Linked DNA regions of Homo sapiens. The protein of the gene in region 1 purifies or fractionates together with the protein of each later gene. This does not show direct contact. Each region holds a gene or a part of one and is shown in the gene's direction. Other genes may lie near its edges.

Region 1 (8,350 bases):
CTAATGTCCCATGCTGGTATGGATTTTGGGAGCAGGAAAGATGAATGTAATTCTTTGTAATTTGTCTTACCTACTCTCCCCAAAAACAACTTTCAGCAAGTTCACCAATGGCCTCTATAAAGCTAAATCCAGTGGACAGTTTTCAGTTCTTATTTTAAAGCAGAAGTCCCCAGCCTTTTTGGCACCAGGGACCAGTTTTGTGGGAGACAATTTTTCCACAGGATGGGGGCAGGGGATGGTTTCGGGATGAAACTGTTGACCTCAGATCATCAGGTATTAGTTAGATTCTCATAAGGAGCATGCAACCTAGATCCCTCGCATGTACAATTCACAGTAGGGTTTGCGCTCCTATGAGAATCTAGTGCCTTGCTGATCTGACAGGAGGCAGAGCTCAGGAAGTAATGCTGGCTCACCAGCTGCTTACCTCCTGCCATGTGGCCCGGTTCCTAACAGGCCACAGACCCATACTGGTCCATGACCTGGGAATTAGGGACCCCTGTTTTAAAGGATTCCCTGCTGCATTTGACATAGCTGATGGTATTAGTTTCCTGAGGCTGATGCAACCAATTACCACAGACCTGATGGCTTCAAACAAGAGCATCTCTTACCATTCTAGAGGCCAGAAGTCCAAAACCAGTTTTACTGGGCCAAACCCAAAGTGTAGTAGGGATGTGCTCCCTTCAGAGTTTCTAGAGAAGAATCTGCCAGCAGACCTTGGCTTGTGGCTGCACCATCCAATCTCTGCCTGTGTGGTTACATTGCCTCCTTCTCTCATGTATGTATCAAACATCCCTCTGCCTGTCCCTTATAAGGACATTAGTGATGGCATTTAGGGTTTATCTGGATAATCAAGGATAATCTCCCTATCTCAATATTCTTAATCACATCTGTAAACATTTTCCCACAGAAGGTAATAGTCACAGATTCCAGAGGAAAGAACCAGCTATCTTTGGGTGGCCATTATTCAGCTTGCTACACTGAACATTCTCATTCTTTCTCAAAACTCCACCCCTCTGAATTCTAGCACATTGTTCTGTACTCTTGTTTTGCTACCTGACAATTGCATCTTGGCTTCTTTGGGCCTTTTCTTGTCTGTTTAACCCCACATGGGGGCCATCCTTGGCTCATCTAGCACACTTTTCTCACTGGGACAATTTCATGGACTCCTGTAATGCATCACTCCCCCATCTGTATCTTTTTTTTTTTTTTTTTTTTTTTTTTTAAGATGGAGTCTCGCTCTGCTGCCCAGGCTGGAATGCCACGGCGCAATCTTGGCTCACTGGTGCAAGCTCCGCCTCCCGGGTTCACGCCATTCTCCTGCCTCAGCCCCCCGAGTAGCTGGGACTACAGGCTCCTGCCATCACGCCCGGCTAATTTTTGTATTTTCAGTAGAGACGGGGTTTCACCGTGTTAGTCAGAATGGTCTTGATCTCCTTACCTCATGATCCGCCCACCTCAGCCTCCCAAAGTGCTAGGATTACAGGCATAACCCACCGTGCCCACCCCACCATCTCTATCTTTAGCCCAGATTGCTTCCCTAATTATCAGACTCAGTCTGTAGCTGGTCAGATGCCTACCAAAAATATATCTATCTGGATGTTCCTCAAGTCCCTCACACTTAATAATCTTCTAAAATGAAATTCATGTTCTCCCTGTCATCAAAAGCAAAAGTGTAACTAGGTCCTCATGCTGTGGAGCAAACGTGTACAAAAGGAATTCCCCTGAATGGATATGGCGGGATCTAGGGGCAGGGAAGGGTCCATACTAATCACTGACAGAGGGGCTCTCACATAAAAAAGGGATCTCCCTTTTACTGCCTTCTCCACTGTCTCCCACATGGACTCACCATCGTGTCTCAGTTAAGCAGTAAACTGACAAATTGTGACTTTCTCACTTCAGTAGGCATCACTATGAGATACACTTTTTACTAGGCCCAGTGCAAAATGGAAATTGCAGAACCTCTTGTTCAAAGATTAGTAGGAATTTCAAGAGTAGCAAAAGCTGAGTATTAAGCCCTTCTATGCCCAGGACCCTGTGTGACTACACAGGTCACATGCCTATAAAGCTGGCCCTGCCTGGAAGTCGTTTCTTCTCTCTCTTCCCACTGCCTGGATCTAACTAGCCTCCAATACCTGCCATGCTATTCCTCAAATGTCTCCTGATTCTGTTCTTTCTCATTCTCTTCTATCATTGCCTTAGTACAACCCCTCATTCCCTCCACTTGTTCTTTCTGGCTCAGGTCTTTAGATCTGGCATCCAGATGAATCATCTAAAATGCAAATCTGGTCAGGTCACTCCCAGCCTGAAATGCTCCAGTGGCCAGCCATAACTGTAAGGATAAAGTCCCAGGTACTTGGTAAGGTCTGCCATGGTGAACTCAAAGTGATGATAATATCAAACCTCTTTCAGTGCTTGTGTATGTCATAATGTGACACATCTCTGTGCCTTTGCTATTGCTGCTACTCCTACTCTTCGCTTGGACAATGTATTCTTTTCAGTCTCACAGCTCAACTAATTGTGTGTGAATGTGTGTGTACATAAACATTTTTATAACAGTGCCTGGCATTTAGTTAGCACAGTATGTATTAGCTATTATTATTATTCCAGGAAACCCTCTTGGACAAATTAGGCTGAATAGCCTTCTTTCATGTCACCTTAGCACACTGTGCATATTTTATATTACCACATTACAGTGAAGAGGTGTCTTCCTCTGTCTGCCTCCACAGCTAGAGTGCAAGCTCCTTGAGGCAGGGACCATGTCTTACTCATCTTTTCAATCTAGTGCCAAAGGGGTATAGTGTCCTGTGCATCGCATGCATTCAAAAAATCTTTGTGTATTCAACTGATCCCCAGCATACCTTCCAATCATTTTTAGTCCTAGAGGGGTTTCTTTTTTTTTTTTTTTTTTTTTTTTTTTTTGAGACGGAGTCTCACTCTACCGCCCAGCTGGAGTGCAGTGGCGCGATCTCGGCTCACTGCAAGCTCCACCTCCCAGGTTCACACTATTTTCCTGTCTCAGCCTCCCGAGTAGCTGGGACTACAAGCACCCGCCACCACCTCCGGCTAATTTTTTGTATTTTTAGTAGAGACGGTGTTTCACTGTAGTCTCGATCTCCTGACCTCGTGATCCGCCCGCCTCGGCCTCCCAAAGTGCTGGGATTACAGGCGTGAGCCACCGCGCCGGGTGAGGGGTTTCTTAAAAAGCATTTTCATCAGATGAGACCCCAGCCCTGAGGGGAGAAGGAGAAAGAGAAAGAGAAAGAAAGAGTATTTTCAGCCACCACCTGAGGCCACCATGTTCTTCCTCTCTTACACATCTAGTACATACCCCCTTAGGCTTCCCATAAATCCTGTCTTTCCTGTGGATAATTTCTTCAATCATTAGTGGTGTGCTTCTTCTTTCTTTTTTTTTTTTTTTGTTTGAGACGGAGTCCCACTCTGTCGCCCAGGCTGGAGTGCAGTGGCGCAGTCTCAGCTCACTGCAACCTCAACCTCCCAGGTTCAAGCAATTCTCCTGCCTCAGCCTCCCAAGTAGCTGGGATTACAAGCATGCGTCACCACGCCTGGCTATCATTAGTGGTGTGTTTCTCCAATGATGTCCCTAAATCTTCTTCCCTGGGGTCTGCACCTCCCTTGAACCTCCCCATTCTACACCTAGTGCATGCTTTGCCAGGGTAATTCCAAAGGCATCTGGGGGTTGGGGCTGTTGGTAGAAATCCTAGATGTCATGGCTGGATCTTTCCTGGAAGTTTGGGTTGGGACAGGTATTAAACAGGCCACTCTGAATGTATAAATCTAATTAAAAATTTATGTGATTGGTGGGCATTTTTTCCAACCTAATAAAGTCCCTTTCCATCCCCCAGCTCTTTGTATTTTAAAAGCCAGGTCACTAGACTTGATAATTCTAGAGAGAGCTGACTGAAAAGAGTTGGTTTGATTAGAAACAGAGGTTCAACACTTTTACACTGTTGGTGGGAATGTAAATTAGCTCAACCATTGTGGAAGACAATGTGGTGTTTCCTCAAAGACCTAAAACCAGAAATACCATTTGACCCAGCAATCCCATTACTGGGTATATACCCAAAGGAATATAAATAATTTTATTACGAAGATACTTGCACGCATATGTTCACTGCAGTACTATTCACAATAGCGAAGACATAGAATCAACCCAAATGCCCATCAATGATAGACTGGATTAAAAAAATGTGGTACGTATACACCATGGAATACTACACAGCCATAAAAAGGAACGAGATAATGTCCTTTGCAGGGACATGGATGGAACTAGAAGCCATTATCTTCAGCAAACTAACACAGAAACAGAAAACCAAACATTGCATGTTCTCACTTATAAGTAGGAGCTGAACAATGAGAACACATGGGCACAGGGAGAGGAACAACACACACTGGGGCCTGTAGGGGGAGGAGCTGGGGAGAGGGAGAGCATTGGGAAGAATAGCTTAATAGATGCAAGGCTTAATGGGTTGATAGGTGTAGCGAACCACCATGGCACACATTTACCTATGTAACAAAACTGCACATCCTGCAAATGTACCCTGGAACAAAATAAAATAAAATAAGAAATAGAGGTTTGAGTCTTTCCTGGTAAGCATATTTATGCTCTACCACAGACGGTTCAGCCTTGGGGCAAGACAGTCTTTCTCCTAATTTTTGTAGTTTTGAACATTCTAAAGTTTTTGTTGTTGTTGTTGTTGTTTTCCCTGAGGACAGAGGCAACTTTGGGGAAGTACTTTGTCGGGTAGGATGGAATCTGGGGCCTTTAGTTTTCCTTCCAAGAGCCCATAGGAGGTTTTGGGTGCCTTCTCAATGCTGGCATGAGAAAATATAAAGCAGATGGACAGTGAACTTTGGTATATTCACTCCTTATGAATGTTATGTGGAAAAGTGGAAGAACATAAGCTGTTTGTCTATGCTATGTTTACAATTGGTTTGCTCTATTTTGTGCATGTGGACAAAAATGGGGGAAAAATGAAAGCTGTGTTAGGATAATGGGTATACGGCTGAATTTTCCAGGAATTTCTATAATAACACCAAATCGCATGTTTTAATGCCCACCGTGAACAAAGAAGACCGGAACCCTCGCAACTCGTTTTGACGTTTTCTGGTCGGCGGTAAAAGCTCGGTTCCCGGCCCTCCCGGAAGTTGTTGCACAGTTGTTTCCGGGAAGCGGGACTCCAAATGGGTCGCAGTCGCAGCCGCTCTCCACGGAGGGGTGAGTCCTGTAGCAATTCGGAGGATATGGGGCTCTGTTGGAGGCCTGTCCCTTTTGTTTTATTTTGTTTTGTTTTTGGTAGCCGCGTAGCAGAGAGGCGGGCCCTTTTCCCAGGCGGAGAGCGAGGGGTGGATAAAGGAACGTAGACCTGGGCCCTGCCCTCTTCAGCCCGCCCTCTCCGGTTTGAAGGCAGTTGTTTGTCTCTGAATTAGTTTCATTAAGTCTTTGTCACCTTCATACAATAACTTTTATTACACTGTGGCCGGTGGGTTTAGAATTAGACCTCAGTTCCTTTGCTGAATTTCTGGGCGACGGTGGGCAAGTCACTACTCAGCCTTTCTGAATCGAATTCCCAGAATGAGTCATTGAGGGTAGTATTGCCAACTTTTAAAAACTGATGTGAGAATTAATGTCACATCCCATAACATACAGTATGTGATTCTGCCTGGTTCTTAAATACTTAATAAATGTTAGATTCCTGCCCAGGTCATTACAGGGAAATCGATATTAAGAATTTTGAGTCCTGGGAGCTCACTTCGTAATGTTTTCTGGCTACCAGCCCCATAAATGAGGCAGCGCGACGTAAAGAACCCTGGACTTCCATTAGGAGATCTAACTTAGACCCTCGGTTCTGCCCCTGATTCGTTTTTTTTTTAAATCAATTTATTTATTTTTAATGAGACAGAGTCTCGCTCTGTCGCCCGCCCAGGCTGGAGTGCAGTGGCCGATCTCAGCTCACTGCAACCTCCACCTCCTGGGTTCAAGCGATTCTCATGCCTCAGCCTTCCGAGTAGCTGGGATTACCCGTCCGTGCCACCACGCCTGGCTAATTTTTGTATTTTTATTAGAGACGGGGTTTCGCCGCGTTGGCCAGGCTGGTCTCGAACTCCTGACCTTGTGATCCGCCCGCCAGCCTCACAAAGTGCTGGGATTACAGGCGTGAGCCACCGCTCCCAGCCTCTTTTTACCTTTTTAATGTGACTAGTAATGGTTTGCATTATTTTTCTACTGGACGGCGCAGCTCTAGATATTTGAGGTAATTATCAGTTCTGCAATTTGTGTGCGTTTGCATTAGAACGTAGGCGTTCCCGGTCCACATCCCGGGAGAGAGAACGCAGGCGCCGAGAAAGGTCCAGGTCTCGGGAGAGAGATCGGAGAAGGAGCCGCTCGCGATCCCCGCACCGAAGACGCTCCCGGTAAGGGCAGAAAATAAGCCAAGAGTTTTATTTACCGAAAGTCCCTAAGAAACTGGTCGCAGCTCTTAACTTTGTTTTCATCGCTTATAAGGGGATTTACGGTTTCCTGAAATGGAGGAAACTTAATCCAACCTTATTCTAAAGCTAACATTCACCTTGGTTAAATGGTGCTAATAGTACTCTACATCACAAAGTTGTCTTGAAAGAGTAAGTAAGAAATAATGCATGCAAACCCCAGAGCATGGTGCTTGGCAAGAAAAAGAAATAAGTATTTTATATTTTTGTTTCTTTCTTCCGTTCCTTTCCTTTCCTTTTCTTTTCCTTTTCCTTTCTTTTCCTCTTTTTTGAGACGGAGTCTCGCTCTGTCACCCAGGCTGGAGTGCAGCGGCGCAATCTGCTCACTGCAACCTCCGCCTCCCCTGCAATCTCTGCCTCCCCTGGTTCAAGCAATTCTGCTGCTGAGCCTCCCAAGTAGCTGGGACTACAGGCACATGCCACCACACCCAGCTAATTTTTTTTGTATTTTTAGTAGAGACGGGGTTTCAACGTGTTAGCCAGGATGGTCTTGATCTCCTGACCTCGTGATCCACCCACCTCGGCCTCCCAAAGTGCTGGGATTACAGGCGTGAGCCACTGCACCCGGCCTGTTGTTTCTTTTTTATTAACTTTTTGGTGATAATGATTTATTCAAGTATGTAATCAAGAATGGATGATCTTGGAAGAACATTAGAAATGGGCTCTGAGTCTTTTTTTTGGTTTGTTTTTTTTTTTTTTGAGAGAGAGGGTCTCCCTGTGTTGCCCAGGCTGGTCTTGAATTCCTAGGCTCAAGCAATCCTCCTGCCTCTGCTTTCCAAAGTGCTGGAATTAGTAGCGTGAGCCACCAAGCCCCACCTGGCTCTGAGTCTTAATAACCATCAATTGCTGTTTAAGTCAGCTTTTTTGTATATTTGTGTGTGGTTGTTAGAAACTTTTAATTTACATTTTTCTGCCTTCCAGAAAGCTTTCTAGCCCTAGTTGTACTGAATGCAACTGATGATTAAGCAGTAAACTACATTAAAAAATTTTTTTGTTAACAATCAAGGCCTTGGCAGAACCTTTTTCCTCACTTTGCTATACGGAATGACTCGTGGTTCTGTGGAGCTCACCTCATGTATATCTGTGCTGATTGATACAAAGTTGATATGTCTGTCTGTTTCTAACATCTTTGCTTATAAATATTAGATCTCCAAGACGACATAGATCCACATCTCCTTCCCCTTCTCGACTGAAAGAAAGAAGAGATGAGGAAAAGAAAGAAACAAAAGAAACAAAGAGCAAAGAACGGCAGATTACTGGTAATGTTATTAGATAAATAACTGTAGGAAAAGTACAGTGATGATAAAATTATAAAAGTTTAATCTTGAACATTTAAATGTTAAGCCTTTTATAGTATTCATTGCATATGGTTTTGAGTTTTTTTTGGTTTTTTTTTTTTTGAGATAGAGTTTCATTCTTGTCACTCAGACTGGAGTGCAATGGCACAATCTTGGCTCACTGCAACCTCCGCCTCCTGGGTTTAAGCAATTCTTGTGCCTCAGCGTCCCAGAGTAGTTGGGATTACAGGCACCCGCCACTATGCCCGGCTAATTTTTGTATTTTTAGTAGAGACGGGTTCTCACCATGTTAGCCAGGCTGGTCTCAAACTCCTGACCTCAGGTGATCCTCCCGCCTCGGCCTCCCAAAGTGCTGGGATTATAGACGTGAACCACCGTGCCCAGCCTGAGATTTTGTTTTAATTGCACCCTAGCAAGTTGCTGGTTATCTATGGTGCTCCTGATATAGAACGATAGTTAAAAACATGAGAATATTCTATTTTGGAAGTGTCTTCAGAACTATATAGTGTCATGCCTGATATTAAAGGTAGTCCTTAATATGAAAC
Region 2 (7,850 bases), about 170 Mb from region 1:
GAAAACAGTAAGAAAACTGCTGGCAGAGTGTGGTGGCTCACGCCTGTAATACCAGCACTTTGGGAAGCTGAGGCAGGAGGAGCGCTTGAGCTCAGGAGTTCAAGACCAGTCTGGACAACATGGTGAAACACTGTCTCTACAAAAAATACAAAAAAATTAGCTGGGTGTGGTGGCGGGCACCCGTAATCCCAGCTAAGTGGGAGACTGAGGTGGGAGGATCCCTTGAGCCCAGGAGGTGAAGGCTGTAGTGAGCCGAGATGGTGCTGCTGCACTCCAGCCTGGGTGACAGAGTGAGACTGTCTCAAAAAAAGAAAAAAAGGAAAACTGCTTAAATCTAATTCAGGATATTTCTGAAAACCAAAGGCAAATACTGTTTTCTAAACAATAGAAAATTAAATCTATTTAAATTACAACCGATAATTCGGCAGGAATGCCCTTCCATAATTATTTTTAAGCACTTACATGAAAACTTTTACATGAAGACCTATACAAAAAGCAAACAAAACCCCCATGTGCTATCCATTATCCAGCTTCAACAATTAGCAACTGAAGGTCAATAATGTTTCATCTATTTCCACAATCATCAATGCCACTGCCTGGATGATTATGAAGCAAATACGAGATGTAACATTTCATTTATATTCCACTACACATATCTAAAAATAAGGGCTCCTAAAAATGACAAACCATTACACATAGCTAGTTCTTTAATGCAATCAAATATCCAATCAGTATTCATATTCTCTATTCTCTCATTTTTTTCATGTGAATCAAGATCCAAGTAAGATCCAGATATTGCAATTTCACCATGATTATTTAATACTACCTTGGTGAGTTTACTGAATATAATGAAACAAGAAAATCAAAAGAAAACACTTTTTTGCTGATTGGACTGAATACACAGAAAATACAAATACTCGGCTGGGTGCGGTAGCTCATGCCTGTAATCCCAGCATTTTGGGAGGCCAAGACGGGCATATCACGAGGTCAAAAGATTGAGACCATCCTGGCCAACATGGTGAAACCCCGTCTCTACCAAAAATACAAAAATTAGCCAGGTGTGGTGGCGCCTGCCTGTAATCCCAGCTACCCAGGAGGCTGAGGCAGAATCACTTGAACCCGGGAGGTGGAGGGTGCAGTGAGCTGAGATCGCACCACTGCACTCCAGCCTGGCAACAGAGCAAGACTTTGTCTCAAAAAAAAAAAAAAAAAGAAAATACAAATACTCTGGTTAAAAAAATTCTAGAATACGATAATTTAGTAAGGTAGCTAAATATAAGATCTCAAGTAAGTCAAGTACCAGCAACAAATATCAAGGAATAGAAATGGGGGCACATCATTTACAACAGAATTTTTAAAAATCCAAACAAGTAGGGACCAAACTAGAAAACAGGTCCTACATAAATCAAATCATTTTTATTTTCCCCAAATGAGTATGTTATTTAGTCCATTTCTAACTGGAATCCCTAACGGTGTGGCTTTTTTCTTAAAGGATTGGATAAAATGAGCTTTAAGTTCACATGGAAAGATTAAATGCCAATGCTGAGGATAGAAAAGAGCAGGCACTTACCTTATCACCTATTACATGTATCTGATTTCAAACCCACACAGTGCAACATAGAAATACCATAGAGCACCTCTCCCGCACCTCCACAGAACCCCTCAGCCTCACTGAACCCTGTGCACACATATGGGAAAATGGAGAAACTATTTGTCTTAAACTGACATTTCAACTTTGCTTTGACTTTACCAAGTTTCTCCTGCCATCTTTTTTTTTTCCTGTTTTTTTTTTTCTGAAACATAACTTGGATCCACAATGTTTTCTCTCATAATTTATTAACTAATGTGAAATGGAAGGTGAAAGAGGAATTATGAACCTCTGAAGCACATGGTTTTCAGTGAGAAAGCCTTGATCCAGCAACACAAACTGCCAAGCACTGTGATTAACTTAAACACTGGGTGCAAATTGGACCAAAAATGTAGTCAAATGAAAATTTTGTTCCTTCAGATCGTGTTTATTCCACATGCCAGAAGTTGTTTAAAGTTCTTTAATCTTGACCCACAGCTTATTTCTTCCACAGAATAACCCCAATACACATAAAAAACCAATTTTCGCAAAACAAAAGATAGAAGATGAACAACATCTGGCGATGTAGAACCCGGAAGGTCCATGATCTTATTCAAAGCATCTGGATTCTTTGGATTCGGGGAAGGTCCACGTTCAGTATACCCACATAACACTCCTAACAGGGACTGGGGCAGGGATAAGTGGCATGTATGACTACTAACAGAACAGACAATACAAATGGCCTTACCTCACCTCTGCTGCCAAATGAGTTTTGGTGTCCCCATTCCTCCAGACAAAAAAAAAAAAAAAAATACCCACAACTTCTTCTTTTACAGCAGTTTCTGTATGCTGGTATTGGGGATAAAAAGGGGCCCTGAATTACATTTATGAATGATAGAGGGAAACCCTGGCCCCTTTCCCTAGGTCACCTTGCTAGTTTAAGAGCCAGTCAGAATGTAAATCTGATCTAATTAAAACGCTCTTGTTCTTTATTCCTGGCTGTGGCACTGGTGAGAGAAATCAAGGTGGAAGTTGAGGAAAAAAAATCAGGACAACCTTTATAGCTAATGAGATCAATGCCAAGATTATACATAACAGTACACATCATGAGTTAGGATGCTGGGTGGTGCAAAGAACCCATTAATGGGAGCTATCAAAAATCACTGAAAACAATGAGGCTCAAATCAGAAGTATCAAGAATCAGCTTTCATGACCCCTACACCATGATGTTTTTCTTTATGACGGCAGAACTATTTTGAAACATTAAATATATCGGCAGGCACTGTGATTCAAAAAGTATTTGAGAACCTACTAGGTGCTAGACACCAACCGAGGCAATGAGTATGGGTGACAACATGTGCCCTGCCCTCACAGCACCAATAGTCCACTGGACAAATACCATCTGGAACATCAGGTAAACACCTAAGCCTGTCTGGAGGAAATCTAATTTGGGCGGAATCCCACAAGCACAGACTAGGTAAGGAGAAGGCAGTTAAGGTGGGAAGTAGCCAGATTTAAGAGTTTGGGCAATGGCCAAAGGTGCAGAAGTTTGAACTACAAGAAGTTCAGTGTAGTTGGTTCGTGTGTTTCCGTGGAGAGAGGACAAGGTCTGGTGGCACTGACAAGAATTAGACCGAAAAGGTAAAAAAGCAAGCCAGGTTTGTCTGGGCCAGTAGGCCAGGTCACAGTTGGGACTCCACTGAGACCACGGAAGCCACAGGTTTGCTCCTCATCCCCGGGCCAACTCGGCGGCCTCCAACCCTATACCCTACCCCCTGCTGCCTGTCCGTGCCTCGCTGGTGCAGACCTTCGTCGCCTCTCCTCGCCGAAGGTACCCGCAGACAGGGCCTAGTCGCTCTCCCCTCGCTTATCCACGGCATCCAGCCGATGGGCTTGGAGGTTTGGGGGCTGGCCAGTCCTCCACGCCTCAGGGAGGAAATGGCACCGTTAGAAAGACAAGATGGCCACACAAGCTCTAAGTGTTTGTCGGGCCTAAACCTGTATCCTCCCTCCAAGCACCAAACCTCCCGACCTCGACCGCACTCGACGCCCCGAGGCCCAGCACCGACGACAGTGCAGAGGAATTCCCGCAGGGTCAACAAGGGGTCACCGGAATCCCCACTCCCGCGCCCGGGCCTGCCCGTGTCGGAGCCACTGTCGCCGGCACTAGGACCGCCCGGGACGGGGGAGCCCACGATAAGTGCCGAAGAGCCTGGGCTCGGCCGCCCCTCCCCCACACCGCCCCGCCGGCACCCCAGAGCCAGCCGACCACCGCCCGAGAGTATGGGACGAGCGGCGCGTCCCCCGCAGCTCCTCGGGAGGGCCGGCCCACAACTTGTGCGGGGTACACCGGCGAGACACTCACCCGCCAAACAGCCCGAGAACAGGCGCCGACCGACCGCGCCGCGGACCCGCCCAGCGCTCGCGGTCCGCTCACAGCCCGCCCCAGCCCGCCCCGCCCCGCCCAGCGCGCAGGCGGATTGCGTCACCGCGTCACCCCGCCCCTTTGCCAACTGCTTCCTGGCTCAGTGCGACCTGGCCTTCTTCCCCTCCCCCATGCGGCCGGCTTCCGAGTGCGCAAGCCCAGAGTCGTCCGCGTTGTCCGCCTCTGCGCAAGCGCCGTGCTCCTCCCACGGCAGTTGGCCATATAGAGGCTGGGGGTGGGGGGGGAGGTCAAGCGTAGCCTCTTCTCCTTTACCAAGATGGCGGCTTGTCCCTGTTTCGCCACAGTTCCTACCTTATGAGCTCGGTTTTCTTATGCTTATAAGAGTGGAACAGGTAATGAGAATCTTCGCCTTGCGGTGGGTAACTGGAGTGGGGGGAAGGCCGTTTGTTAGAAGGAGACAAGTGCCCACTGAGGAGGAGAGAGGCGGTCGCGGGAGGGCAGGTGGTGGCGGGAGTGCGGAGCGATCACGGGGAGGGGGAGCCTTCGCCTCTCCTCCTGTCCTCCAAGAAGATGGCGGCAGCACCGAGCTGGGGCGCCGAGTACGACTGGGCGGGGGACGGCGAGCGGCCGCGCGAAACTCGTCTAGCCCACCACCGCCGCCGTCTCGATGATCGGGGGGCCTCTCTGGGATTGGCTGCGCGCACGTCACGTGGGGCCGACGGGCCCTGCGCAGACCATCGAGTCGGGCGTCCCTCCCCGGGGACGTGGCCTTCCTGTGCCCGGGCTGGGGCCCGCCGCCCCGCGGGGGAGGGCGGAGCTGGCGCGGCCCCTAGCTTTCTCCTTCTGGTGTGGGGCCCGAGGTGAGACCTGGGGAGTGCTCCGCGAGCCCACGAGCAGCGACGTGGCTCGGGGACGGGAGGGTGCCGTGCCTGGCTGCGGCCTGAGCGGGATGGGCGCGGGCGGCTCCGGCCCGCGGGTTGTGCCCCGGCCCGGGGTGTCCTTTCCTCCCTCCCGCGTGGCCTGGAGGCACTGCAACTGTTCGAGACTCACGTCAAGGCTTGGCGCAAATACCCCTCGTTCAGGAAGCCTTCCTAGGTTTCCCCCGCTTAGAGGAAACACTTCCTGAGTTCCTAATGGCTGACCCGCATGGTGTTGGGAACCTGAGCCTTTCTGACACCGTGGCATGTTGCTAGGGTATTTTTGTGCGTAGCTCCTTTGAAAAGTGGTTAGGTGCTCAAGGCTAGCTGCTACATATCCTCTCCATTCGACTTAAAAAATGAGAGGGTCAGACTTGACATGGTGTTTGGACGCCATGTAAAATCGAAGGAAGTCGACTTGGGCTTTGCTTATTAAACAGTGCCTATTATGGTGAAATTAAACGGCTGAAGGAATGTGGATGAGTCGTAATCTTAAGGAACATGACGATTTGCCCCTCAGTTTTGCGTTTTATGTCCTCAGATTCATAGCTACCTATACCCTAAGCCCTCAATCAATGACTTCACATTTATTTGGTGTCTGCTTAAGGATAGTCACTTTCTTAGCAGCTAACTTCCTTAAAACCCTATTAAGATAGGTTAAGTCACAATTAGGGTTTTGTCTAAGGCTCCTGGTAGCGGCACATTGCATAATAAGCTTAATGTTCATTTAGGGAAGCAAATCTGGGATGCTGAAACACTGGATGAAACGTAGTGCTTAGGTTTATATTTTGATTTTTTGACATGTAAAAGTATCCCTAGGCTAAATTCATTAAGTACACATGATATTAGGATGCTTGGCAACAGTATTTAAAAATAGTTGAAAAGGTGTTTGGGTAAGAATTATTTCCATCATTTGGATTACCGAATCTCTGAGTCTGAAACATCAACCTATCAAGTTTTAGACTTGGGGAAAATGGAGCTGGAGCCTACTGCCTCAAGTCTCAGGGACAGCGTTTGAAACCCCATTAAATAATTCATCATGAGGATTAAACTTTCCTGTTACTGCTATTAGTTTTGCTTGGTGCCAAGCACTGTTGAAGGGACTTAGCTCATCTTATCAGGAGTCAAATTAACGTCATTCGGGTAAAAGTGCATTGAGTGTAAGGAGAGCACCTCAAAGATATAGTTGACCTATATCACGTCCCTCAGCGCCACTAGGCTTACTTGAATCCCTGTTACAGTGTCCTCTCCAGTGGGCAAAGCTAACTTCTCAGTGGCCTGGTGGGAGAATTTCTTCTTGAGTAAATACGTATTTTTCCAGGTTTTGTTGTTTTGGCCTTCCAGTTGTCTGACTTCAGCCTCATGACCTCACTTCTTCATTTCAATTCAAAAAAATATTTGCTGGAAATTGCTGTGTAGGGTTAAGGGTTCTGCAGATACAAAGGTTGAGAGGATATAGTCTTTTCGACCAGGTGCAGTGGCTCACGCTTGTAATCCCAGCACTTTGGGAGGTCGAGGCGGGTGGACACTTGAGGTCAGGAGTTCGAGACCAGCCTGACCAACATGGTGAAACCCTGTCTCTACTAAAAATACAAAAATTAGCCTGGCATGGTGGCGCGCGCCTGTAATCCCAGCTGCTCAAGAGGCTGAGGCATGAGAATCGCTTGAACCCAGGAGGCGGAGGTTGCAGTGAGCCGAGATTGTAGCACTGCACTCTAGCCTGGGCGACAGAGTGAGACTGTGTCTCAAAAAGCCAACAAAAAAAGAGGATATAGACTTTTCTTTTCCTCAGGCAGCTTGTGGTCTAGTGTGAGAGACTTATTTGTAGAAGAGTAATTACATTATGGTGTGATAAGTGCAATGATAGAAATATGTGTAAGGTGTGGACATAGGAAATAGGCAGTGGTTACCTGTTGGAAAGTCTTCCTACAGAATGTGGTCCTTGAACTGCGGTTTAAAAGACGAGTAAGAGTTTTTCCAGGTGGTGCTGAGTGGACAGGAAGACTAGGAAAGAGGAGGCTGACATTTATAGTTGGTGGCATACGTGAGCAACAGGTTTAGAATTTGGTATACTCTTGCCATGGCAAATGGTAGAGGGCTTGGCTCAGACTGTGTACTGAAGGACTTGATGCCCTTCAGTGAGTTTTATCTAAGATACTCTGACCTGAACAGAATTTGAGATGATTGTGCCGGGTCCACTGGGATATCTTACGATCCTTCGTGGGTCATATGGATTCTCCATTAGTGCGTCCCAGCTGAAACTTACAGAAAGGGCTTAAGCAGAGAACATGCTTTTTGGAGTACAAAGTGATATTTTTATTTGGTATGGCCCGTTCATTGTGCATCCATCCCATAGGCAAATGGTGATACGAAAGCTTTTCCCTCTTTTGGTAAGAAGTAACCAAGTTCTGAAAGAAGCATATCATGCGGCTTTCCCAATTGCCAAGTTATGATGACACAAAGTCCAAAATGCGTGTAAAGGTTTTTGACCAAGTAGAAAAGCAGAGAACCCCAACCAGTATAATGTGTCAGAATGCTTTTTCTCTTCAATTGTAAAAGCACCACAACGTTCAACATCTGGAAACCAAGAAAATAATGAAAAGAACCTTTTTTCATGTGTATAATATTTTAAAACTTGGTTACATGTTATTTTTTGGTATTTCTAAAGTCAGAGACATTTTAGAAGTGAAATCCCTAGTAGGCTATTGTTTTACCAAGCACACTGAAGTTCCTCGAATACCGTTGAAGATGAGCTAGACATTTGTTCTGAGACGTGTCTGGACATCATGTGGTTGTGTTAGTCATCTTGTTGATACTTGTTGTTAATTTGGTAAGAATACATTGACTACATACTCTCCCTTACTACTTTTTATTAGCATTCATATTAATCTTATTTCAAATCAAGGTTACAGCTTCATGTCATTTGTAGAGTCAGATAATCCTAGAAAGGCTTGTAAGAAAGAAGTGCCAACATCCTTCC
Region 3 (5,635 bases), on another chromosome or scaffold:
CACTTCCATACTCTCCCGCAATTTGGCTGTGGCACCAGTTTTCTCCCTGGTCTCCCTGCTTCTGGTCCCTGCCACTCTCCTCTCTCCCTACTCATCTTTCTAATTTCTAAATGCATCTTTCTAAGGTTCTGTTTTCACTTTTACTTGAAGATGTCCAAGTTGGAACTCTTGACTTTCTGCCTCCCATACCTGGTCCTTTCCTGGTCTTCCCCCATCTCAGTAAATGGCACCTCTTAGTAACTCAGTTCCTAAAGCCAGAAACCTAGCTTCAATATATTAGACTTCTCTCTTTCTCTCATTCCCCACATCTAAGTTTTGCTAGTGCCCCTTCCAAATACAGCTCATTTTTTCTTTTTATCTCCTACCACTACCACACTGTCCAAACCATCATCAGTCCTTAACTGGATTTATGCAGTAGTCTCTATCCAGTCACCATGCTTCAACACTTGCCCCCTCCAATCCTCCTTTGTACACAGTAGCTAAAATTATGTTTTTAAAATATAAATTAGAGTCTGGACATGCTGGCTGATGCCTGTAAAATCCCAGCGCTTTGGAAGACTGAGATGGGAGGATCACTTGAGTGAGTTCAAGACTAGTCTGGACAACATAGCAAGATCCTGTCTCTACAAAAAATTTAAAGATTAGCTGGGCAAGGTGGCCCATGCCTGTCCCAGTTACTCATGAGTCTGAAGGCAGGAGGATCCCTTGAGCCCAGGGGTTCAAGTCTGCAGTGAACTATGATCACTCCAGTGCACTCCAGCCTGGGTGACAGAGCAAGAAATATATATATATTAGATTATGTCACTTCACTACTTAAAACCCATTAGTGATGGCTCTGCTTGCTTCTCCAGTCTCATCCTACTCTCTTCCTTTCTGTGCCCCATCCCCCTGCACCATCAGTTCTGAGAACATGCCAAGCTCTTATCTGCTGCAGGCTCTTCCACTCAGTTCTCTCCAGCTTTTTGAACACTGTGCTCCTTCCAGTTCATCAGGCTTCAGCCTCAATGTCACCTCCTCAGAGAGCCCTTCCCTGACCACCTATTTGAAGTAGTTCTCATCACAGCACTGTCTCTATTCTCTCATAATCCAAATCACAGTCCTCAGTTTTGCTGCTTGTTTATTTATTTATTACCTGTGTCCAAAACCAGAATGTAAGCTCCATGAGAACAGGGAGCATCCCTAGCCCCTTGCATAGAATCTGCCACCTAGCTGATCTTTAATAAATGTTTGCAGATTGAACCCGTACATCAAAATATTTTATGACTTTCACATATTATGTAAAAGTCCAAGTTCCTCGGTGTGATATTCAAGTCCCCAATAACCTTTTCTTCACCATTCCTATATTCCAGAACATTCCTTGATACTTTCCGATGTGACATCTTGGTTGTTCATGTCCTACCATTTACCTAAAATGCCCTCCTATCATCTGTATATCTTTTATGGCCTAGCTCTGCCTCTCACCCCTTCAAGGCTTCTCTCTATTTTGGGAATGAAAACCCAGCCAAAAGCCACTTTTGTAATTACTTTTGTGATTTCAAACAAACAAACAAACTCCCCAGTTGCTTCAGTCAGAAACAATAACCAACTGCCTTGTTACATTCACTGTGATGTGTGAATGTCTGCACCAAATCACATGCACACAGAGTTCTACGCTGTCTCATAGTCTCAGCCACTGTAAAATCTTTCTTCTTCTTCTGCCCCCACAGGTTTTCTGTTCCCCAGAGCCACCTGCCAAGACCTCTACCCCAGAAGACTTCATCCGAATGACCAAGGGTATCACCATGGCAACCGCCAAGGCCGTTGCTGCTGGCAATTCCTGTCGCCAGGAAGATGTCATTGCCACAGCCAATCTGAGCCGCCGTGCTATTGCAGATATGCTTCGGGCTTGCAAGGTAGAAATCCTTGAGGCATTTCCGTGAGGCAGCTTTGGGCCAGAACATAGTGGGAGAGAAACTGTAGGGATCTGCGGGGCCTAAAGCTAACATATTACTCTGGGGACAGGAAGCAGCTTACCACCCAGAAGTGGCCCCTGATGTGCGGCTTCGAGCCCTGCACTATGGCCGGGAGTGTGCCAATGGCTACCTGGAACTGCTGGACCATGTACTGCTGGTAAGGGAGGGCGTTGCTTGTTCCTCATACCAGCCTCCCTGAATACACAGCCCTCTTCCTGCAGGCCTCGCACCCTGCTGTCTGTTTTGCTCAGATCTCCTCCCTACCCCACCCTCTACTTCCCAAATCTGTTCTCCTTTCCAAGTCTCCCTTTCTCCCAGGCCCCATCCTTCTTATCATCTTTGGTTCTCCCAGTCACCTCTTCCTCTTCCTCTTTTTCTTTTCTCCTCCCTTCCCACCTGACCACCCCCTTCTCTACTTTCGTCGTCTCCTCTTTCATCTCATCATTCTCCTTGCTCCTTGTCAGCCGGTGAGTGACACAGCCCCACTGTCTCTATCACGTGTGAGGTGTGATGCATGATGTGTACTTGGATAGGCAGCGTGGAGTTTGAGGGCTATGGTGTGGAGTGCTCTAGGGATAGGGGTGAGGGGGCCATGGTCTGCCCTATTTCATAGATCAGGGTAGACCCTAAGATGTGATGCTCTTTGTCCCCTGCCCGCTTCTTGCCCAGACCCTGCAGAAGCCAAGCCCAGAACTGAAGCAGCAGTTGACAGGACATTCAAAGCGTGTGGCTGGTTCCGTCACTGAGCTCATCCAGGCTGCTGAAGCCATGAAGGGTGAGGGGTGACCAGGGACAGGGACGGATGGAAAACCCTTATCATGGTGTGATCTCTGCTTCCTGGCTGGACAGCTCTGTGCTAGCCTCTGACCATAGTCCCCACAGATGCCAGGGCCTGATGATACTAACCATGCTCCCTGGTGCTTTTGACCTCCCCACTCTGCCTTAGCCTCTTTCCTCTTCCTTCATCCCACCAGGAACAGAATGGGTAGACCCAGAGGACCCCACAGTCATTGCTGAGAATGAGCTCCTGGGAGCTGCAGCCGCCATTGAGGCTGCAGCCAAAAAGCTAGAGCAGCTGAAGCCCCGGGCCAAACCCAAGGTCAGTCCTGCTCCCTTCCTCTTCCACCCTCACCATGGCAGTGTCCCCACCTTCATCTCTGACTTTACATCTCTTTCTGCAACCTTCGCTTATTGCAGGAGGCAGATGAGTCCTTGAACTTTGAGGAGCAGATACTAGAAGCTGCCAAGTCCATTGCAGCAGCCACCAGTGCACTGGTAAAGGCTGCGTCGGCTGCCCAGAGAGAACTAGTGGCCCAAGGGAAGGTGAGTGCTTAAATACCCAGAAGAATGGGGACAGGTTGGCACTTTGATGTCCACATCCACATCCATAGCCAGCGAGTCTTTGAAGTGAGGAAAATGCAGGTCTAAGTAGGCTCTTCTCCTTCCTACAGGTGGGTGCCATTCCAGCCAATGCACTGGACGATGGGCAGTGGTCCCAGGGCCTCATTTCTGCTGTAAGTGTGCAATACCACTAGGTCTCTCTCAGTTTGAGAGACTTGAGAAGGCTGGAGTGGGGATGGACCAGGGCAAGGGGCATATTTTTAAGCAAACTCTCCCTGCTTTAGGCCCGGATGGTGGCTGCGGCCACCAACAATCTGTGTGAGGCAGCCAATGCAGCTGTACAAGGCCATGCCAGCCAGGAGAAGCTCATCTCATCAGCCAAGCAGGTAGCTGCCTCCACAGCCCAGCTCCTTGTGGCCTGCAAGGTCAAGGCTGACCAGGACTCGGAGGCAATGAAACGACTTCAGGTGAGAACCCTGACCCATCCCATTGTCCCTTGGGCTATACTGCTTCAAACTGTCACTCCCGAGATGTATGTTTCTATGAGAGAATTGAGGTACTGTCTCAACTGGGACCGTACCTGAGTTCTCAACCTAGGCCACTTTCTCTCTGCCCAGGCTGCTGGCAACGCAGTGAAGCGAGCCTCAGATAATCTGGTGAAAGCAGCACAGAAGGCTGCAGCCTTTGAAGAGCAGGAGAATGAGACAGTGGTGGTGAAAGAGAAGATGGTTGGCGGCATTGCCCAGGTGAGCTTCACCCCAGATGCTGAGGGACGCTGTCAGGAGGGCAGTCATGTTGCCTGCGCTGGTCCCAACTACCCTATGCCCCTGCTGTGCATCCTCACTGAACTAAGTCCCCGATCTCCACCCTCAGATCATCGCAGCACAGGAAGAAATGCTTCGGAAGGAACGAGAGCTGGAAGAGGCGCGGAAGAAACTGGCCCAGATCCGGCAGCAGCAGTACAAGTTTCTGCCTTCAGAGCTTCGAGATGAGCACTAAAGAAGCCTCTTCTATTTAATGCAGACCCGGCCCAGAGACTGTGCGTGCCACTACCAAAGCCTTCTGGGCTGTCGGGGCCCAACCTGCCCAACCCCAGCACTCCCCAAAGTGCCTGCCAAACCCCAGGGCCTGGCCCCGCCCAGTCCCGCAGTACATCCCCTGTCCCCTCCCCAACCCCAAGTGCCTTCATGCCCTAGGGCCCCCCAAGTGCCTGCCCCTCCCCAGAGTATTAACGCTCCAAGAGTATTATTAACGCTGCTGTACCTCGATCTGAATCTGCCGGGGCCCCAGCCCACTCCACCCTGCCAGCAGCTTCCGGCCAGTCCCCACAGCCTCATCAGCTCTCTTCACCGTTTTTTGATACTATCTTCCCCCACCCCCAGCTACCCATAGGGGCTGCAGAGTTATAAGCCCCAAACAGGTCATGCTCCAATAAAAATGATTCTACCTACAACCTCTGCCTGGCTTCAAGGGAGATACAAGTTTTCTCCCAGGGCAGTAGGAGAGACAGTGGGGTTGAATTCTGTCACCCAGCTTGATCCAGCTTGAAATGGGAGAGGGGAAGACTGGCAGTCTGCACCTGAGGTCCCTTCCTCCTTGCACCCGGACCCTAAAGTTATCCAATGGGGAAGTTGTGCCTGAGAAGTCATACTCCTGTTATCCTCACCTCCCTGGCCAGCACCTAAGCCTCACAAAGTGTCGTTCTGCTGCTGCTGGGACAGCAGCTACCACAGTTCCTTGTGGCTACCAGGACATTCTGTTCTTCATAGCTACTCAGGGTATGTCAACAAATCCAGTCCTTGACCAAATTCAAATTTTCAAAAGAAGCTTTGCTAAAAATAATATGCCTGTAAGTGTCTGAGCCTAAGAGAACTATGGCCACAAAACTGATTGAAGCCATTAGCAAGCAGAAAAATCCCAACTTGAGGCTGCCTCGGGTAGGCACCGCTCTTGATTGGGTTGGGACACTCCTGCCTAGGGTAGCGCTAAAAGTGAAGAGCTTGACCCAGGTGTGAGAATTTATTGTTAGAGGGGGCAGAGCTCCCCTAGTGGCCAGGAAGGTGCTAGCAGCCCTGTTCCAGCCACCCTGCTTATCTGGTGGGTCAGTGGAAAGAGGCAGTCAGAGAGGTGGATGCTGTGTGCTTCCACGTCCCCATCCAGCCACTCTGTCCATAATGCATGGACTCTCTGACAGTCGTCTTAGGTTGGCAACTATTTTCATGCGTGATTCTTTAGTCAGCCCTACCGCCCAGTACATTATTTCCTCAAGTAGAACACAAACGCCACCCATCTGCTACTAACACCTTCTACTCCCACCACATTAGGGAAAGCTTGAAGTAGAT
Region 4 (7,363 bases), on another chromosome or scaffold:
TTTTCTTGAACTTTTTGAGTCTTGGGACTGAACTGTTTCCAAAATTAATGCCTTCTGGAAGTTGAAATTGTCTACGTTTTACATTGTAAATGGCACGTAATGTTCAGTTTTTAGAATATCTAAATTAAAGACATTGCCTGTGATAGCTTGAGGGAATATTTGAGGGCCTAATATGGTAGCTGGTCATTCTTGTAGCTAAAAACTTGGTGTGATAAACAGGAGTCTGACCTGGCCGTTGCCTTTTCTCATCTGCAGGTGTGTGTGGTTTCAGCGCAGCATGGCTGTGGTCATCCGTTTGCAAGGTCTCCCAATTGTGGCGGGGACCATGGACATTCGCCACTTCTTCTCTGGATTGACCATTCCTGATGGGGGCGTGCATATTGTAGGGGGTGAACTGGGTGAGGCTTTCATCGTTTTTGCCACTGATGAAGATGCAAGGCTTGGTATGATGCGCACAGGTGGTACAATTAAAGGGTCAAAAGTAACACTATTGTTGAGTAGTAAGACGGAAATGCAGAATATGATTGAACTGAGTCGTAGGCGTTTTGAAACTGCCAACTTAGATATACCACCAGCAAATGCCAGTAGATCAGGACCACCACCTAGCTCAGGAATGAGTAGCAGGGTAAACTTGCCCACAACAGTATCCAACTTTAATAATCCATCACCCAGTGTAGTTACTGCCACCACTTCTGTTCATGAAAGCAACAAAAACATACAGACATTTTCCACAGCCAGCGTAGGAACAGCTCCTCCAAATATGGGGGCTTCCTTTGGGAGCCCAACGTTTAGCTCAACTGTTCCAAGCACAGCCTCTCCAATGAACACAGTCCCGCCGCCACCAATTCCTCCAATTCCAGCGATGCCATCTCTGCCACCAATGCCATCCATTCCCCCAATTCCAGTTCCTCCTCCAGTACCTACATTGCCTCCTGTGCCTCCTGTGCCCCCGATTCCCCCAGTTCCTTCTGTGCCACCCATGACCCCACTGCCACCCATGTCGGGCATGCCGCCCTTGAATCCGCCACCTGTGGCACCTCTACCTGCTGGAATGAATGGCTCTGGAGCACCTATGAATTTGAACAATAATCTGAATCCTATGTTTCTTGGTCCGTTGAATCCTGTTAACCCTATCCAGATGAACTCTCAGAGCAGTGTGAAGCCACTCCCCATCAACCCTGATGATCTGTATGTCAGTGTGCATGGAATGCCCTTTTCTGCAATGGAAAATGATGTCAGAGATTTTTTTCATGGGCTCCGTGTTGATGCAGTGCATTTGTTGAAAGATCATGTAGGTCGAAATAATGGGAATGGATTGGTTAAGTTTCTCTCCCCTCAAGATACATTTGAAGCTTTGAAACGAAACAGAATGCTGATGATTCAACGCTATGTGGAAGTTAGCCCTGCCACAGAAAGACAGTGGGTAGCTGCTGGAGGCCATATCACTTTTAAGCAAAATATGGGACCTTCTGGACAAACTCATCCCCCTCCTCAGACACTTCCCAGGTCAAAATCGCCCAGTGGGCAGAAAAGATCAAGGTCAAGATCACCACATGAGGCTGGTTTTTGTGTTTACTTGAAAGGGCTACCATTTGAAGCAGAAAACAAACATGTCATTGATTTTTTTAAAAAGCTGGATATTGTGGAAGATAGTATTTATATAGCTTATGGACCCAATGGGAAAGCAACTGGCGAAGGCTTTGTAGAGTTCAGAAATGAGGCTGACTATAAGGCTGCTCTGTGTCGTCATAAACAGTACATGGGCAATCGCTTTATTCAAGTTCATCCAATTACTAAGAAAGGTATGCTAGAAAAGATAGATATGATTCGAAAAAGACTGCAGAACTTCAGCTATGACCAGAGGGAAATGATACTAAATCCAGAGGGGGATGTCAACTCTGCCAAAGTCTGTGCCCACATAACAAATATTCCATTCAGCATTACAAAGATGGATGTTCTTCAGTTCCTAGAAGGAATCCCAGTGGATGAAAATGCTGTACATGTTCTTGTTGATAACAATGGGCAAGGTCTAGGACAGGCATTGGTTCAGTTTAAAAATGAAGATGATGCACGTAAGTCTGAACGCTTACACCGTAAAAAACTTAATGGGAGAGAAGCTTTTGTTCATGTAGTTACCCTAGAAGATATGAGAGAGATTGAGAAAAATCCCCCTGCCCAAGGAAAAAAGGGATTAAAGATGCCTGTGCCAGGTAATCCTGCAGTTCCAGGAATGCCCAATGCGGGACTGCCCGGTGTGGGACTGCCCAGTGCAGGACTTCCCGGTGCAGGCCTGCCCAGCACAGGACTGCCTGGTTCAGCAATAACCAGTGCAGGACTGCCTGGTGCGGGAATGCCCAGTGCAGGAATACCTAGTGCAGGAGGTGAAGAGCATGCCTTCCTGACTGTAGGATCAAAGGAAGCCAATAATGGGCCTCCATTTAACTTTCCTGGTAATTTTGGTGGATCAAATGCCTTTGGGCCACCAATCCCTCCTCCAGGATTAGGAGGCGGGGCCTTTGGTGATGCTAGGCCTGGTATGCCTTCAGTTGGAAACAGTGGTTTGCCTGGTCTAGGACTGGATGTTCCGGGTTTTGGAGGTGGACCAAACAATTTAAGTGGGCCATCGGGATTTGGAGGGGGCCCTCAGAATTTTGGAAATGGCCCTGGTAGCTTAGGCGGTCCCCCGGGGTTTGGAAGTGGCCCTCCTGGTCTTGGAAGTGCCCCTGGGCATTTGGGTGGGCCACCAGCTTTTGGGCCTGGCCCCGGCCCCGGCCCCGGCCCTGGCCCAATCCATATTGGTGGTCCCCCTGGCTTTGCATCTAGTTCTGGAAAACCAGGACCGACAGTAATTAAAGTGCAAAACATGCCCTTTACTGTGTCTATTGATGAGATTTTAGATTTCTTTTATGGCTATCAAGTAATCCCAGGCTCAGTGTGTTTAAAATACAATGAAAAAGGTATGCCCACAGGTGAAGCCATGGTGGCCTTTGAGTCTCGGGATGAAGCCACAGCTGCTGTCATTGACTTAAATGACAGGCCTATAGGTTCAAGAAAAGTAAAACTTGTATTAGGGTAGCCATTCACATCATTTTTTATAGGGTAGATCTTCATATTGCTGTGATTAATGCATCCAGATTGTTTTCCTAGTATTTCCAGGTTAGAACCTGTGGATTGTTTCAATTGCATATAGCTTGGTTTCCATAACATAGAGCATTGGTTGACTGTTTACAGAAGACTCACTCACCAGGATAAACATTGCTGTATGTTACAGTAAAGCTATCTGGAGAGAACACATAAATGATTTTGGCATACCATTAGAGAAACCATTTGTAAAACTCAAATGACCACATAAAGCTTATCAAGGAGTCTAGATTGGTTTTGTTTTATACCATATGGGATGAAGAAAATAGAAATGTCAGTAGAACTCATTGAGGGTGCTCTTGCCAGCTGCTGAAAATAGAAGTTGGCTACTCTCAGAATTTGGTTTAAAGCTGGACAGATTTGCTTTGTTATAGGGTAAAGCTTTGTCTAAAGTCCTCATTTTCTTTTAAAATTGAATAAAATTTCTGTATACAGATTCATTGTATGTACCTTTATTGCTTCTTAAGGGTCCTTGCTGTATAGACAGTCCTGCTTCAGAAGTTGCTGCTTTGTTTGTCTAATTGACTCATTTGTAAATGAGCAGAACTGTTTTGTTGGTTTTTTTCCCTAAATATAAAAGTCCACACTTCGTTTGTGCTATAACCTCAAACTTTGATTTCTAATGTCACACTTAAAACTGTGTGGAATAAGACTTTTGCCATAAAAATAAACTATGGAGTCCTTTATCTACCAGAGCCTTTTTGGTTTGACCGCCACGATTTAGGTTAGTCAGTTTAAAAATTGTTCATGTTGTTTGGATGGTATCGAAAACCAGAAACCACTTTTAATAATGTGTTTAAGATACTTGATTTGAAGTCCTTTTCATATGGACTAATTGTAGTATCAATTTCCTCCTGTCCCGATTATGTGAAATTTTGGCCTTTAAACAAAGAGGGGCCCATTCATAAGAAAGTGTTATATCTAGGTTTTTAAAACTGAAGTTGAAATTATCTTTGTTAGCAGTAGTAGTATAGAATAAAAGATCCGTATGCTGGTTCGTAGATTGATACGTGTTAGTCCTGTTATTTGGAGGCTTTTTGGCATAGTTGTTCGATCAGGAGCCTGTTTACTAAAAGTCTTCATACAGAGTACAAGTGCAGCCGCCAGAGGAGAAAATTGAGATTCTTGACCCTTTCATACTCTTTTCTTTGGTATTCAGGACACTAAGGCAGGAGGACCACATGAGTTCTGGTTGGTAAGTGTCCTTGTCATGAAAACACTTGCCTTACAAGGCTCTAATTATGATTTCCCTAGTCAGTGCTCTGAAGATGTGTCACATTATATTATAAACAATACGGAAGGGGAGATAGGTGAGATGATATGAAAAACAAATTTTCTCACTGTCATAAAAGGCTCTAATTATGGTTACTTTCCTTGTGATGAAAAACTTGGCCTTACAGGGCTCTAGTTATGGTTACTTTCCCTAGTCAATGCTCTGAAAATGTGTCACATTATAAACAATACAGAAGGAGAGATAGATGAGAGATCATGAAAACCAAATTTTATCTTTTACATGGCCCCTTTGTCTTCGTTTGAAACATCCCCAACATTTCCTACAAATCAGCGTAGTTACAAAGGGGTCAGTCTTTTAAAATAAGTATTTCCTATTAAACTATATATATATACAGTGCCTTTTTGGTGTTGTGAGTCAGTGGAACACTGAAATACAGCGGTTGTGTAATTTAAGAGTGGCAACAGTTTCATTTGATAAGATTTGAAAAGGCTTTTTATCACTACAATCTTAGAGGATTGACAGTACAGGATTTTTGTTTAAGAGAAGGATTGTTTAGACTCAAGAGGTGACTATGTTGTGGGTCTTTTGATAATTCATGAATACAGATTTGCTTTGACCGATCACTAGATACTGCCTCCTCAATTTCAAAAGCAATATAACGTTTGTATATGCTGTTTAATTTAAGTTAATGTTAAGTAATCATTTCTCATTCCAAAGACAATGCAAAAAACTTCAGCACTGCTTGAGAGTTGTATTTCAGCCACAGATATTTTCTCCATTGGAAAGCTATTTTCATTTTAGAAAAATGGGTTGTTTGAAGATGAAAGTCTTTTATCTTTTTTCACAATTTATTTTGGTTATATGTTCGTACATTCTTATTAAATATTTCATACACTTTATTGCAACTACTTTGTTATTTCTACATCTTAGATAAATGCTGAAAAGGAAAACGATTTCATTGTTCATCTAATTAAATAAATTAAAAGAGCGGTTTGTGTAGAAATTGGAGAGAACTATGTTTTATATGAATCACAACAGTGCTCGTTGTGGACTGTAATTAAATGCTTTGCCCTCTGGAACTTGATTTTTGTGTATCTGAGATTTATTAACAGTGCTAACTGCTAAGGATACTGTTTATCTTGTTCTGGGCATTGGAGTTTCAGTTTTTAAAAAATTCTTGAAAATGTATTCTGTGAAACTACTCATACCTCTCTTCCTGCGAATTTTCTCCTAAGAACTAGGTTTGGGGTAGAAATGAATTGACATTATTTTCTCATTTGCTTTGTATGGTATGAAGGATTTGTAAAGCTTTGCTCAAAGTTGTGTGCATTTGTAAACACTATCATGATATTTTCAATTTTATGTGTAAATTTTATTGTCTGTTTTTGGTGACTCTGACATTAATGGAAGAGAATATTTTCCATTAGATTTAATTTTTTTTCCTCTCCCTTCTGATTTTTTTTTTATTGGTGTTCATTTTTCTTTTGATTTAAAGGATTAGAGAAATCTACAAATGTATGTCATAAATAAGCAAATTTGTAAACTTTTCTGAACTTTAGTGAAACATTTAGTTCACAAGCATAATTTGGAGGTGTGTTCTGTGTTTACACAGTAGTTTGGATGTACAATTATTATTAGTGGCTTTTTAAAAAATGAAACAGTGTTAAGTGAAATGTAGTTCCTAGCTTTGTACTCCAAGTTGTCAAAGCATCAACAATGAAAATTCGATTAGGAAACTTTATTTAAAATTTCAGGTAGTAATATTCAGTGTAGTTAAGGCCAGTCTTAACCCACTGGATGAAAATCTAGGACTGTATGGAAGTAAGCAAACATTACATTTTTAGGTGGAAATAGTCAGCCTTGCATAAAAACAAGGATGCGTGAAAGCCTTAAATTCCAGCTCCCTTTTACTGGAGTCTGTGGTTGTGTACAGGTATGGGCCAAGTGTAAAATCTCATCAATTTTAAGAACACTCGGGAAATGAGTAAAGAAAATGTAAAATTGCTGCTAGTCAAATCTTTTGGAAAGAATTTCTGGAAGTGGTCACTTTAAAAATTATTTTCCACCCTTGCAAAATTGCCACATTTAAATTGTTTTACTGGCAGTTCTATAGTAGTCCAGACTTTAGAAACCAAACACAACAAAATGGCTTGTTGCCAATATGGCCACAACATTGCCAGCAAATACTGCCTTGGCATCACTCAGCAGAGGTTTTTGTTTATAAAGATGAAGTCTTGAATACTGTTCAATAAACTTGTCAAAAAATAAAACAGGCTGATGCTTTTAATGCTTTAACTGCACAAAAGTACTTTACTGAGCTATAATATTATCTTGTCAGGGTTTTTGTTTTGTTTTGTTTTTAAACCTGAAAATATTTTGTGCCTTTGGAGAGGTAGATTTGGTAATCTTGGAGAGGTAAAAATTGTTGCTTATCCTTGCCTGCTAATGCTGAAGTGTCAAGAGAAGAGGATACTTGGAACAGCAGGGAGGAAACTTGATTCAAGTCCATAGTATCCACCTTTTCAGAATTTTATGTGTATGATGTGTTGGCAAACAAAGCCCTTAAATGTTGAAAACTTTTTATCTTGAAAGAGTTTAGCTTGTATTAGAATTTGGATACCCAGTGTGTTTTAGAGGGGGCTAGACATATAATTCCAGGTAGTAGCTGAGCCATTATTAAATAATCGGGATTTGACTAAGCAATGGACAAATCACTGAGTGAAATCAGCTGCCTACAGATATCCAAAATGGCTTTTACCATCTGAAAGGGGTGGACTGTGTGATAATATGTCTCCTTTTCTTGTTCAGGAGAGATCAGTTATGTAATTCATTGTTACCTGCTTTCCAGTGTTTTACAGCAAGAAATAGTTTATCAACTATGTGCATCATCACTAATCTCCCAAAAGTAGAGCTTTTACAGGGTATGGTAGAATCAAACTTATGGCTTTCCTTTTTTATTAAAAATGGCTTTATTTCAGTCTTATCTTT

Evidence for each region.
Region 2: the proteins of SNRNP27 (region 1) and HDLBP purify together in Homo sapiens (affinity purification with mass spectrometry; 3 studies listed by BioGRID and IntAct, with this or other methods). This does not show direct contact.
Region 3: the proteins of SNRNP27 (region 1) and TLN1 purify together in Homo sapiens (affinity purification with mass spectrometry; 2 studies listed by BioGRID and IntAct, with this or other methods). This does not show direct contact.
Region 4: the proteins of SNRNP27 (region 1) and RBM12 purify together in Homo sapiens (affinity purification with mass spectrometry; 2 studies listed by BioGRID and IntAct, with this or other methods). This does not show direct contact.

The regions. Positions count from the first base shown.
Region 1 is NC_000002.12:69,888,783-69,897,132, forward strand, and holds the start of SNRNP27 (U4/U6.U5 small nuclear ribonucleoprotein 27 kDa protein), read left to right. Parts: upstream 1-5,173; 5' UTR 5,174-5,202; coding exon 5,203-5,236; intron 5,237-6,311; coding exon 6,312-6,432; intron 6,433-7,653; coding exon 7,654-7,766; intron 7,767-8,350. UniProt on the Homo sapiens protein: May play a role in mRNA splicing.
Region 2 is NC_000002.12:241,312,065-241,319,914, reverse strand, and holds the start of HDLBP (vigilin), read left to right. Parts: upstream 1-4,242; 5' UTR 4,243-4,345; exon of another isoform or gene 4,346-4,560; intron 4,561-4,684; exon of another isoform or gene 4,685-4,813; intron 4,814-7,850. Other genes in the region: SEPTIN2 (septin-2), read right to left, coding at 2,321-2,416, 3,360-3,447. UniProt on the Homo sapiens protein: Appears to play a role in cell sterol metabolism. It may function to protect cells from over-accumulation of cholesterol.
Region 3 is NC_000009.12:35,696,448-35,702,082, reverse strand, and holds the end of TLN1 (talin-1), read left to right. Parts: intron 1-1,706; coding exon 1,707-1,892; intron 1,893-2,001; coding exon 2,002-2,109; intron 2,110-2,621; coding exon 2,622-2,727; intron 2,728-2,926; coding exon 2,927-3,051; intron 3,052-3,149; coding exon 3,150-3,275; intron 3,276-3,403; coding exon 3,404-3,466; intron 3,467-3,577; coding exon 3,578-3,760; intron 3,761-3,910; coding exon 3,911-4,039; intron 4,040-4,166; coding exon 4,167-4,292; 3' UTR 4,293-5,135; downstream 5,136-5,635. UniProt on the Homo sapiens protein: High molecular weight cytoskeletal protein concentrated at regions of cell-matrix and cell-cell contacts. Involved in connections of major cytoskeletal structures to the plasma membrane.
Region 4 is NC_000020.11:35,648,237-35,655,599, reverse strand, and holds the end of RBM12 (RNA-binding protein 12), read left to right. Parts: intron 1-255; 5' UTR 256-277; coding exon 278-3,076; 3' UTR 3,077-6,675; downstream 6,676-7,363. Other genes in the region: CPNE1 (copine-1), read left to right, coding at 2,058-2,072.